Linked DNA regions of Homo sapiens: region 2 is linked to region 1. The links come from fine-mapping of genetic effects on gene expression. Tissue or cell type: whole blood. Region 1 holds a variant in brackets; the other region holds the start of a gene. All regions are shown on one strand. Distances are between the middles of the regions.

Region 1 (5,194 bases):
ATTTAGAAAGTGTCCAGTATGTCTGTGTAAGCATGGGAGAAAAAGGCAAGAAGGAAACACAGCTGTTAACAATGAGGAATAATGGGGGGAGGCTTCGATAGATCTTTGTTTCAAAGGACAGGAACCCAACTCATACTTGCTTAAGACAAAAACAACAACAAAAAAGTAATTTATTGGCTTATATCACTGAAGAGTCCAGGGGTGAGTCTGTCTTTGGCACAGCCCGGACAATGTCTGCAGGGCTTGGTCTCTGCTCTCCTCTGTGTGGGCTTCCTTCTCGCGCATGTTCTCCTTAGGCAGTACTCCTGGAAACTCTTGGAATATACGTACCCATTTAGTAACTTCGGAGAGAGCAGAAAGCCATTCTTCTTCCCAGTGGCTCCAGTAAAATTCCAGGATTGACTCTGATGGGCCTGGTTTGGTCATATGTCCTTCCTGAACCAATCACTATGGATAGGACTTTTTTTTTTTTTTTTTTTTTTTTCTGTGCTTGAGTGGTCTGAATCTTCCCACGGAGACAGGGAGATGGAGTCATTTCCATCCAAGCCACTTTTACTGAGAGTGTAGGGACTGCCCAGAGGAAATCAAGAGGCTATTTATCAGAAGAAAGAATGGGTTCCGGGGGATGAAAACCCAATCTGTGTTCCCGTTGACTAGGGGGAAGGGTATAATGACTGGCTAGGTCTGCTCACAAGGCCATGCTTGGAGGACATGAGGCAAGTCCACTTGAGTCATCTTCCCCAAAACCACGGGCACTGGGCAGAAAAAACTACACTTGAACACTGTAGGTGGATTGAGGGGTGGGCAGAAGCAAGAAGAGCAAAATAGCACGGGGAAGGAACGGGTGGGCTCAAATCCAGAAATCCAGATTTGAATCTGAGTTTTGCCATTTGGTAATTTTTAAACTTCTGAGCCTCAGTTTCTCATTGGAAAACTGGATCAATGCAGGAACAGTGCCTGTAGAATTCTTATGAGAATTAAATGGAATACTCGACATAAAGGATTCAGCTCTGTTCCTGAAAAAGCCAATGAATGTTTGCTGTTATGATAGTGGTCTTGAACTTCCATGCGGGTGACTGTGCCCTTGATAAGGGGTCAGGCTGTCCTCGGAGCCCTCTTCCTCATGCCATCAGGGCCTCCCCAGCACAGGCCTCAGAACTCACTAACATGTTGCTCAGTCAAAGCCTGGCCAGATTCCAACCCCAGGCATGAAGGAAAGCATAAAGGATCTGGTGTTTGGGTGTGGTCACGGTGGGTCCTGATGGGGCTGCGTCAAGGCTAATGAGGAAGAGGCTGGAGGGCCAGGGATTGGCAAGGAGGAAGGTGAGGAGTAAGGGGAGGGGTGATTTTGGCTAGAGCCAGCAGGGGTCACTGCAGATCTAAGTAACTTCAGGGAAGCGGCAGGGCCACCCATGGGCCCTCCCACATTACTACCTGCCTTCGTAACTGGGATACAGGTCTTGGACCAGTTCTGGGGAGAAGGATTGGGATTGGACTCACGCAGTGGGAGGTAGCTGCCTAGGGCATCTGCCCTTGGTGTCCTCCGGGGCCTAGGCTGTCTCTCCTCCATGGAGGCTCTTCACCAATGGGGTGTGGGCCTGGCGTGCCACCGGACTCTGAGTTCCAGCAGTGCCTAGTAAGTGCATCTTGAGATGCTCCCCTATAAAGAGCTCTGAGATTAAATGCGTTTCCTTGTCTCGTCCCTCGTCTCTGAGGGTTGTAGCCCAGATTAGCATGTTAGAGGCTCAGAGAAGTCCTGCAGTCAAGAAAACCTGTTAGACTGTGTTTAACTCAGGTTTCCTGTGCTTATTTGAGCCCGTTTGCCACAACATAGTTAGGGAAATGCTGGCTTAAGGGTGGGAAAGGGGGTGTGCTTGATACATTAACCTTCCCCAAGAGCATTTGCCCTCCCAACACACTCCCTCCTCCACCCATTGCAAGTAGTGTGTGACACATGTCTGTTGTAGAAAAGTGGGGGAAAAAACTACAAAGAAGAAAGTTACCCATCCCCTGCCTCCAGAAGAAAGTTACCCATCCCCTGCCTCCTGCTCCTTAGTCTCTTCTCAAAAGAGCTCTGGCCACTGTCCTCGGTCTTCCTGGAGAAAGGGTGATGATGGAGCTCCCCTCAAGGCACACCCACTTCTACTGGGGAGAAGCCCCAAGAGGAAAGGGCCCTTTTAGAGGTCATCTTATCCACCCCTCCGTCTCCTCTCTGTGCAGATTCTTGCTTCCCTCTCTTGCTGACATTCCTACAGGAAGGGAGATGGTGGTGGTGGTTTGGAGGGTGTTGAGGGGCGCAGAGGGCAATTGGGTATGTAGATCATCAGGGTGGAAGGTGAGCTTCCTTTCTAGGTGGGGAAACAGGCTCAGAGAGGGGCCATGACTTACTGGTGTTTCACAATGAGCCAGTGGTGGAGCTCACAGATCCTGGCCCCAGACCAGGCACCCTCCTCCCCCTAACCCCCATCTCCAGCTCTCAATGCCAAGAGTCTGGAGCGGGCCCTGTGCACTCCAGGCAAGGCTGCGGTTTCTTCTGTGGGACTGTGGAGCCACCCAGGGTGTGTGGGTGCTGCGCACGCGCACCACAGTTGTGTAACAGGCTCTGGGGCGTGTGCACGCGCTCAGTAACCTGATGCAACAGGGAAGCTGTGGTCCCGTGAGCTGGGGTGTGGGCGCTTGGCCGGTGCCCAAACCACAAAGAGTATTTGGCT[G/T]GTGGCTAAGGAGGCCAGGCATGGGGGTCGCAGAGTTGTCTACGTCAGGGCTTGTCTATCCCTAGTTGCCCACATCCTGGTCCCTGTGGGCGCAGGGCTGGGAATGGGGCTGCCTGGCCAGGTGATACTGTGGAGGAGGGGTTGGGGCCTTGCCCCTTCCTCCTTCTGTTTGCCACGATGCCTATTGTGATGAGGATGGGGGGCAGGCGGGGCTTCCTCCCTGTGGTTCCATCTCTTCCTGGCTGTAACCCCCCAACCCAGTTCTGTACCCTGCTCTCTCCACCAATCCTGGAGCCCTCACCACAGATCCAGGTCATTTTACACAGCAATATCTGCCTCTCACTCCCCCACCTCCCCTGAGTCTCACAGCCCTGCCCTCCCTACATAATAGGCTTTCCTGGGCACCCCAAATTGGGAGAAGCAGAACGGGGAAGGAGAAGAAGAGTGGCCACTTTGCAGCCAGCCCAGATGCTGACTTTCCGCTGCCACTTCTGAACTGAGTGACTGAGAAAGATCAGTGTCCCTTCTCAGCCTCCATGTACTCATCTAAGAGGTGGGGGCAGTGATACTCCCTGCTGAGAGTGGTGGAAAGATAGTGTGCTCCTGTGAACAGGAGTCCTGAACTCTTGAACTCTAGGGTCTAGGAAAGAACTCCATGAAAGGGGAGTTGCCCCTTCATTCTGCTCCATGTGGATTGAGTGTTAGGGCACCCGCCCTCCTCCCAACTCCCCAGCATTTCTATCACCAGACAGGGTGGCAGGCACTTTGGAGAGCCAGGGTCCTGGGAGGAGGTGGCCCATGAAAGCAGGCCCTATTCTGCCTGCCTGTGGCCACCTGTGTACCCTCTCTCCCCTCTTGTCCGCAGGGAGGTGGGGCACATGCATTTCTTCTGCCCCTCTCCACTTGCTCCAGCACTTCAGAAAGGCAACATCCTTGGGGGTGGCCAGTGGGTTCCAGGGATGCAGGGTTAGGTGACGCAGGGAGGGCATCTATGCCCAGTGTCCTGACTCTCTTCCCTGGCTGGGCTGTACCTGGCACGTTGGGGCTCCTCTCCAGTGCTCCCAGGATGCCCTGGATCTACATTGCCTTATTCTGCACTAACCACCTAATGTTTTGATGATCTGCTTATGCATCTACCTAAAAATAACAAATGATGCACTTTGGGAGGCCAAGGCGGGAGGATTGCTTGAGTCCAGGAGTTTGAGACCAGCCTGGGCAACATAATGAAACCCCTATCTCTACAAAAAGTAAACAAATTAGCCAGGTGTGGTGGTGCACACCTGTAGTCCCAGCTACTCAGAAGGCTGAGGTGGGAGGATTGCTTGAGCCCAGGCAGTCAAGCCTGCAGTGAGCCACGATCATGCCACTGCACTCCAGCCTGGGTGACAGAGTGAGACTCCTCCATTCCACCCTCCCCTTCCCTGGGAAAAATAAATAATTGATGACACTTACATAGTGCTCACTATGTTCCAGGCTTTACATATACTAACTCGTTTGCTTCCCATGGTGGAGATGGATATGATTGTTCTCCTTGAGGAAACTGAAGCCCAGAGAAGGCAAGTAAGTGCCCTGCTCAAATTTAATTCACTTGTGTTGTCTAACCTCAGTCACTGTCCTATCACCCTGTTTTATTTTCTTCGGAGCCTTGCTTGGAAAAACAGTGGTCTACTGGTTTGCTTACTTGCCCATTGTCTGTCTCACAGACAGCACGAGACATCGCCTCATAGATAGCAAGCTCCTTGAGTGCAGGGCCTTCATCTTTCTTGTTCACATTCCCAAAGCTTAACTGATGCTTTAGAGAAGCTCAGTGAATATTTGTGGAAAGAATGAGCCACTGGCCCACTGAATGGAGACTCCTCGAGGGTGCACTCTGTGATTATTCATTTCTGTTACCCCCACACTTCCTAGCACAGGGCCTGGCACAGATACAGTGCTCAGTAAACTGTTTGTTGAGTGAATAAATGAATGAATGAATGAATGGAAAAAAATTCCAGAGGACTCAGTTGCTGTTGCTCTTCCTTCCAGACTCTGGGAACTAGTGGAAAGTCTTCAGCCACAGGAGATGTGGGAGAATATTCTTTCTGGATCTCTGTTTTGGTTTCTCTGTGTGATTTGGTGTGTGCGCAGAGTGGGTACACAGGGCGGAAAGCATGAGAAGAAGATTGGAAATGAAATAATCTCTGGGAAATGACTCCCTGAATAATTATTTCATGTCCAAAGGCAAGAGAGGATAGAAACAGAATATGTAGGTGTGGGCCCAGAGGAGGCCCCTAGTAAATGTTTGATGAATGAATGAGTGAGTGAGGCCTTTGAAGAAAGGCCCAGGCCATGATTTTCTTTGTAGTCCCAGACCCTAGGATGGGCTCAGACTAGAATATGATACGTTTGCTGAATGAATGAATGAATGAATAAATGAATGCACACATGAGCACAAAGGAGCATGGAAATGATTGGAAAGGGTGAGTGCTGCAAAGGACCTCAGA
Region 2 (5,127 bases), 45 kb after region 1:
AAAAACCCCTAGGCCAGGTTGTAATCCTAGCCTTATATAAAAGGAATTCTGTGCCCTCACTCCCCTGGATCCCTGGGCAAAGCCCCAGAGGGAAACACAAACAGGTTGTTGTAACACACCTTGCTGGGTACCACCATGGAGGACAGTTGGCTTATGGGGGTGGGGGGTGCCTGGGGCCACGGAGTGACTGGTGATGGCTATCCCTCCTTGGAACCCCTCCAGCCTCCTCTTAGCTTCAGATTTGTTTATTTGTTTTTTACTAAGACCTGCTCTTTCAGGTCTGTTGGCTCTTTTAGGGGCTGAAGAAGGCCGAGTTGAGAAGGGATGCAAGGGAGGGGGCCAGAATGAGCCCTTAGGGCTCAGAGCCTCCATCCTGCCCCAAGATGTCTACAGCTTGTGCTCCTGGGGTGCTAGAGGCGCACAAGGAGGAAAGTTAGTGGCTTCCCTTCCATATCCCGTTCATCAGCCTAGAGCATGGAGCCCAGGTGAGGAGGCCTGCCTGGGAGGGGGCCCTGAGCCAGGAAATAAACATTTACTAACTGTACAAAGACCTTGTCCCTGCTGCTGGGGAGCCTGCCAAGTGGTGGAGACAGGACTAGTGCACGAATGATGGAAAGGGAGGGTTGGGGTGGGTGGGAGCCAGCCCTTTTCCTCATAAGGGCCTTAGGACACCATACCGATGGAACTGGGGGTACTGGGGAGGTAACCTAGCACCTCCACCAAACCACAGCAACATGTGCTGAGGATGGGGCTGACTAGGTAAGCTCCCTGGAGCGTTTTGGTTAAATTGAGGGAAATTGCTGCATTCCCATTCTCAGTCCATGCCTCCACAGAGGCTATGCCAGCTGTAGGCCAGACCCTGGCAAGATCTGGGTGGATAATCAGACTGACTGGTCCCACTCTTCCCACAGGCCTCAGAGCCCCAACTTTGTTCCCTGGGGCAGCCTGGAAATAGCCAGGTCAGAAACCAGCTAGGAATTTTTCCAAGCTGCTTCCTATATGCAAGAATGGGATGGGGCCTTTGGGAGCACTTAGGGAAGATGTGGAGAGTTGGAGGAAAAGGGGGCTTGGAGGTAAGGGAGGGGACTGGGGGAAGGATAGGGGAGAAGCTGTGAGCCTGGAGAAGTAGCCAAGGGATCCTGAGGGAATGGGGGAGCTGAGACGAAACCCCCATTTCTATTCAGAAGATGAGCTATGAGTCTGGGCTTGGGCTGATAGAAGCCTTGGCCCCTGGCCTGGTGGGAGCTCTGGGCAGCTGGCCTACAGACGTTCCTTAGTGCTGGCGGGTAGGTTTGAATCATCACGCAGGCCCTGGCCTCCACCCGCCCCCACCAGCCCCCTGGCCTCAGTTCCCTGGCAACATCTGGGGTTGGGGGGGCAGCAGGAACAAGGGCCTCTGTCTGCCCAGCTGCCTCCCCCTTTGGGTTTTGCCAGACTCCACAGTGCATACGTGGGCTCCAACAGGTCCTCTTCCCTCCCAGTCACTGACTAACCCCGGAACCACACAGCTTCCCGTTCTCAGCTCCACAAACTTGGTGCCAAATTCTTCTCCCCTGGGAAGCATCCCTGGACACTTCCCAAAGGACCCCAGTCACTCCAGCCTGTTGGCTGCCGCTCACTTTGATGTCTGCAGGCCAGATGAGGGCTCCAGATGGCACATTGTCAGAGGGACACACTGTGGCCCCTGTGCCCAGCCCTGGGCTCTCTGTACATGAAGCAACTCCAGTCCCAAATATGTAGCTGTTTGGGAGGTCAGAAATAGGGGGTCCAGGAGCAAACTCCCCCCACCCCCTTTCCAAAGCCCATTCCCTCTTTAGCCAGAGCCGGGGTGTGCAGACGGCAGTCACTAGGGGGCGCTCGGCCACCACAGGGAAGCTGGGTGAATGGAGCGAGCAGCGTCTTCGAGAGTGAGGACGTGTGTGTCTGTGTGGGTGAGTGAGTGTGTGCGTGTGGGGTTGAGGGCGTTGGAGCGGGGAGAAGGCCAGGGGTCACTCCAGGATTCCAATAGATCTGTGTGTCCCTCTCCCCACCCGTCCCTGTCCGGCTCTCCGCCTTCCCCTGCCCCCTTCAATATTCCTAGCAAAGAGGGAACGGCTCTCAGGCCCTGTCCGCACGTAACCTCACTTTCCTGCTCCCTCCTCGCCAATGCCCCGCGGGCGCGTGTCTCTGGACAGAGTTTCCGGGGGCGGATGGGTAATTTTCAGGCTGTGAACCTTGGTGGGGGTCGAGCTTCCCCTTCATTGCGGCGGGCTGCGGGCCAGGCTTCACTGAGCGTCCGCAGAGCCCGGGCCCGAGCCGCGTGTGGAAGGGCTGAGGCTCGCCTGTCCCCGCCCCCCGGGGCGGGCCGGGGGCGGGGTCCCGGCGGGGCGGAGCCATGCGCCCCCCCCTTTTTTTTTTAAAAGTCGGCTGGTAGCGGGGAGGATCGCGGAGGCTTGGGGCAGCCGGGTAGCTCGGAGGTCGTGGCGCTGGGGGCTAGCACCAGCGCTCTGTCGGGAGGCGCAGCGGTTAGGTGGACCGGTCAGCGGACTCACCGGCCAGGGCGCTCGGTGCTGGAATTTGATATTCATTGATCCGGGTTTTATCCCTCTTCTTTTTTCTTAAACATTTTTTTTTAAAACTGTATTGTTTCTCGTTTTAATTTATTTTTGCTTGCCATTCCCCACTTGAATCGGGCCGACGGCTTGGGGAGATTGCTCTACTTCCCCAAATCACTGTGGATTTTGGAAACCAGCAGAAAGAGGAAAGAGGTAGCAAGAGCTCCAGAGAGAAGTCGAGGAAGAGAGAGACGGGGTCAGAGAGAGCGCGCGGGCGTGCGAGCAGCGAAAGCGACAGGGGCAAAGTGAGTGACCTGCTTTTGGGGGTGACCGCCGGAGCGCGGCGTGAGCCCTCCCCCTTGGGATCCCGCAGCTGACCAGTCGCGCTGACGGACAGACAGACAGACACCGCCCCCAGCCCCAGCTACCACCTCCTCCCCGGCCGGCGGCGGACAGTGGACGCGGCGGCGAGCCGCGGGCAGGGGCCGGAGCCCGCGCCCGGAGGCGGGGTGGAGGGGGTCGGGGCTCGCGGCGTCGCACTGAAACTTTTCGTCCAACTTCTGGGCTGTTCTCGCTTCGGAGGAGCCGTGGTCCGCGCGGGGGAAGCCGAGCCGAGCGGAGCCGCGAGAAGTGCTAGCTCGGGCCGGGAGGAGCCGCAGCCGGAGGAGGGGGAGGAGGAAGAAGAGAAGGAAGAGGAGAGGGGGCCGCAGTGGCGACTCGGCGCTCGGAAGCCGGGCTCATGGACGGGTGAGGCGGCGGTGTGCGCAGACAGTGCTCCAGCCGCGCGCGCTCCCCAGGCCCTGGCCCGGGCCTCGGGCCGGGGAGGAAGAGTAGCTCGCCGAGGCGCCGAGGAGAGCGGGCCGCCCCACAGCCCGAGCCGGAGAGGGAGCGCGAGCCGCGCCGGCCCCGGTCGGGCCTCCGAAACCATGAACTTTCTGCTGTCTTGGGTGCATTGGAGCCTTGCCTTGCTGCTCTACCTCCACCATGCCAAGGTAAGCGGTCGTGCCCTGCTGGCGCCGCGGGCCGCTGCGAGCGCCTCTCCCGGCTGGGGACGTGCGTGCGAGCGCGCGCGTGGGGGCTCCGTGCCCCACGCGGGTCCATGGGCACCAGGCGTGCGGCGTCCCCCTCTGTCGTCTTAGGTGCAGGGGGAGGGGGCGCGCGCGCTAGGTGGGAGGGTACCCGGAGAGAGGCTCACCGCCCACGCGGGCCCTGCCCACCCACCGGAGTCACCGCACGTACGATCTGGGCCGACCAGCCGAGGGCGGGAGCCGGAGGAGGAGGCCGAGGGGGCTGGGCTTGCGTTGCCGCTGCCGGCTGAAGTTTGCTCCCGGCCGCTGGTCCCGGACGAACTGGAAGTCTGAGCAGCGGGGGCGGGAGCCAGAGACCAGTGGGCAGGGGGTGCTCGGACCTTGGACCGCGGGAGGGCAGAGAGCGTGGAGGGGGCAGGGCGCAGGAGGGAGAGGGGGCTTGCTGTCACTGCCACTCGGTCTCTTCAGCCCTCGCCGCGAGTTTGGGAAAAGTTTTGGGGTGGATTGCTGCGGGGACCCCCCCTCCCTGCTGGGCCACCTGCGCCGCGCCAACCCCGCCCGTCCCCGCTCGCGTCCCGCTCGGTGCCCGCCCTCCCCCGCCCGGCCGGGTGCGCGCGGCGCGGAGCCGATTACATCAGCCCGGGCCTGGCCGGCCGCGTGTTCCCGGAGCCTCGGCTGCCCGAATGGGGAGCCCAGAGTGGCGAGCGGCACCCCTCCCCCCGCCAGCCCTCCGCGGGAAGGTGACCTCTCGAGGTAGCCCCAGCCCGGGGATCCAGAGAACCATCCCTACCCCTTCCTACTGTCTCCAGACCCTACCTCTGCCCAGTGCTAGGAGGAATTTCCTGACGCCCCTTCTCTTCACCCATTTCCTTTTTAGCCTGGAGAGAAGCCCCTGTCACCCCGCTTATTTTCATTTCTCTCTGCGGAGAAGATCCATCTAACCCCTTTCTGGCCCCAGAGTCCAGGGAAAGGATGATCACTGTCAGAAGTCGTGGCGCGGGAGCCCACTGGGCGCTTTGTCACATTCCACCGAAAGTCCCGACTTGGTGACAGTGTGCTTCCCTTCCCTCGCCAACAGTTCCGAGTGAGCTGTGCTTTAGCTCTCGTGGGGGTGGGTCAAGGGAGGATTTGAAGAGTCATTGCCCCACTTTACCCTTTTGGAGAAATGGCTTGAAATTTGCTGTGACACGGGCAGCATGGGAATAGTCCTTCCTGAACCCTGGAAAGGAGCTCCTGCCAGCCTTGCACACACTTTGTCCTGGTGAAAGGCAGCCCTGGAGCAGGTGTTTTTTTGGAACTCCAAACCTGCCCACCCAACTTGCTTCTGAAAGGGACTCTAAAGGGTCCCTTTCCGCTCCTCTCTGACGCCTTCCCTCAGCCAGAATTCCCTTGGAGAGGAGGCAAGAGGAAAGCCATGGACAGGGGTCGCTGCTAACACCGCAAGTTCCTCAGACCCTGGCACAAAGGCCTTGGCTACAGGCCTCCAAGTAGGGAGGAGGGGGAGGAGTGGCTGCCTGGCCACAGTGTGACCTTCAGAGGCCCCCAGAGAAGGACACCTGGCCCCT

Evidence for each region. PIP is the estimated chance that this variant, and not a neighbour inherited with it, causes the effect.
Region 2: VEGFA starts here. The variant in region 1 is fine-mapped to the expression of VEGFA in whole blood (TOPMed, PIP above 0.99). The same link has a PIP of 0.9 or more in blood mononuclear cells and monocytes.

Annotation. Positions count from the first base shown.
Region 1 is chr6:43,722,646-43,727,839 of GRCh38, forward strand. No RefSeq gene overlaps it. Among named protein-coding and RNA genes, the nearest start is that of MRPS18A, 37 kb to the left of the region's middle. RefSeq lists an enhancer at 2,296-2,385. The variant G/T (reference allele first, on the strand shown) is at 2,712.
Region 2 is chr6:43,767,787-43,772,913 of GRCh38, forward strand. It overlaps VEGFA (vascular endothelial growth factor A), which reads left to right and starts at 2,425. Exons shown (of 8, transcript NM_003376.6): 1 at 2,425-3,526. The coding sequence starts at 2,921. RefSeq lists silencers at 2,238-2,487, 2,865-3,804, 3,875-4,394 and enhancers at 2,850-3,615, 3,616-4,381, 4,382-5,127.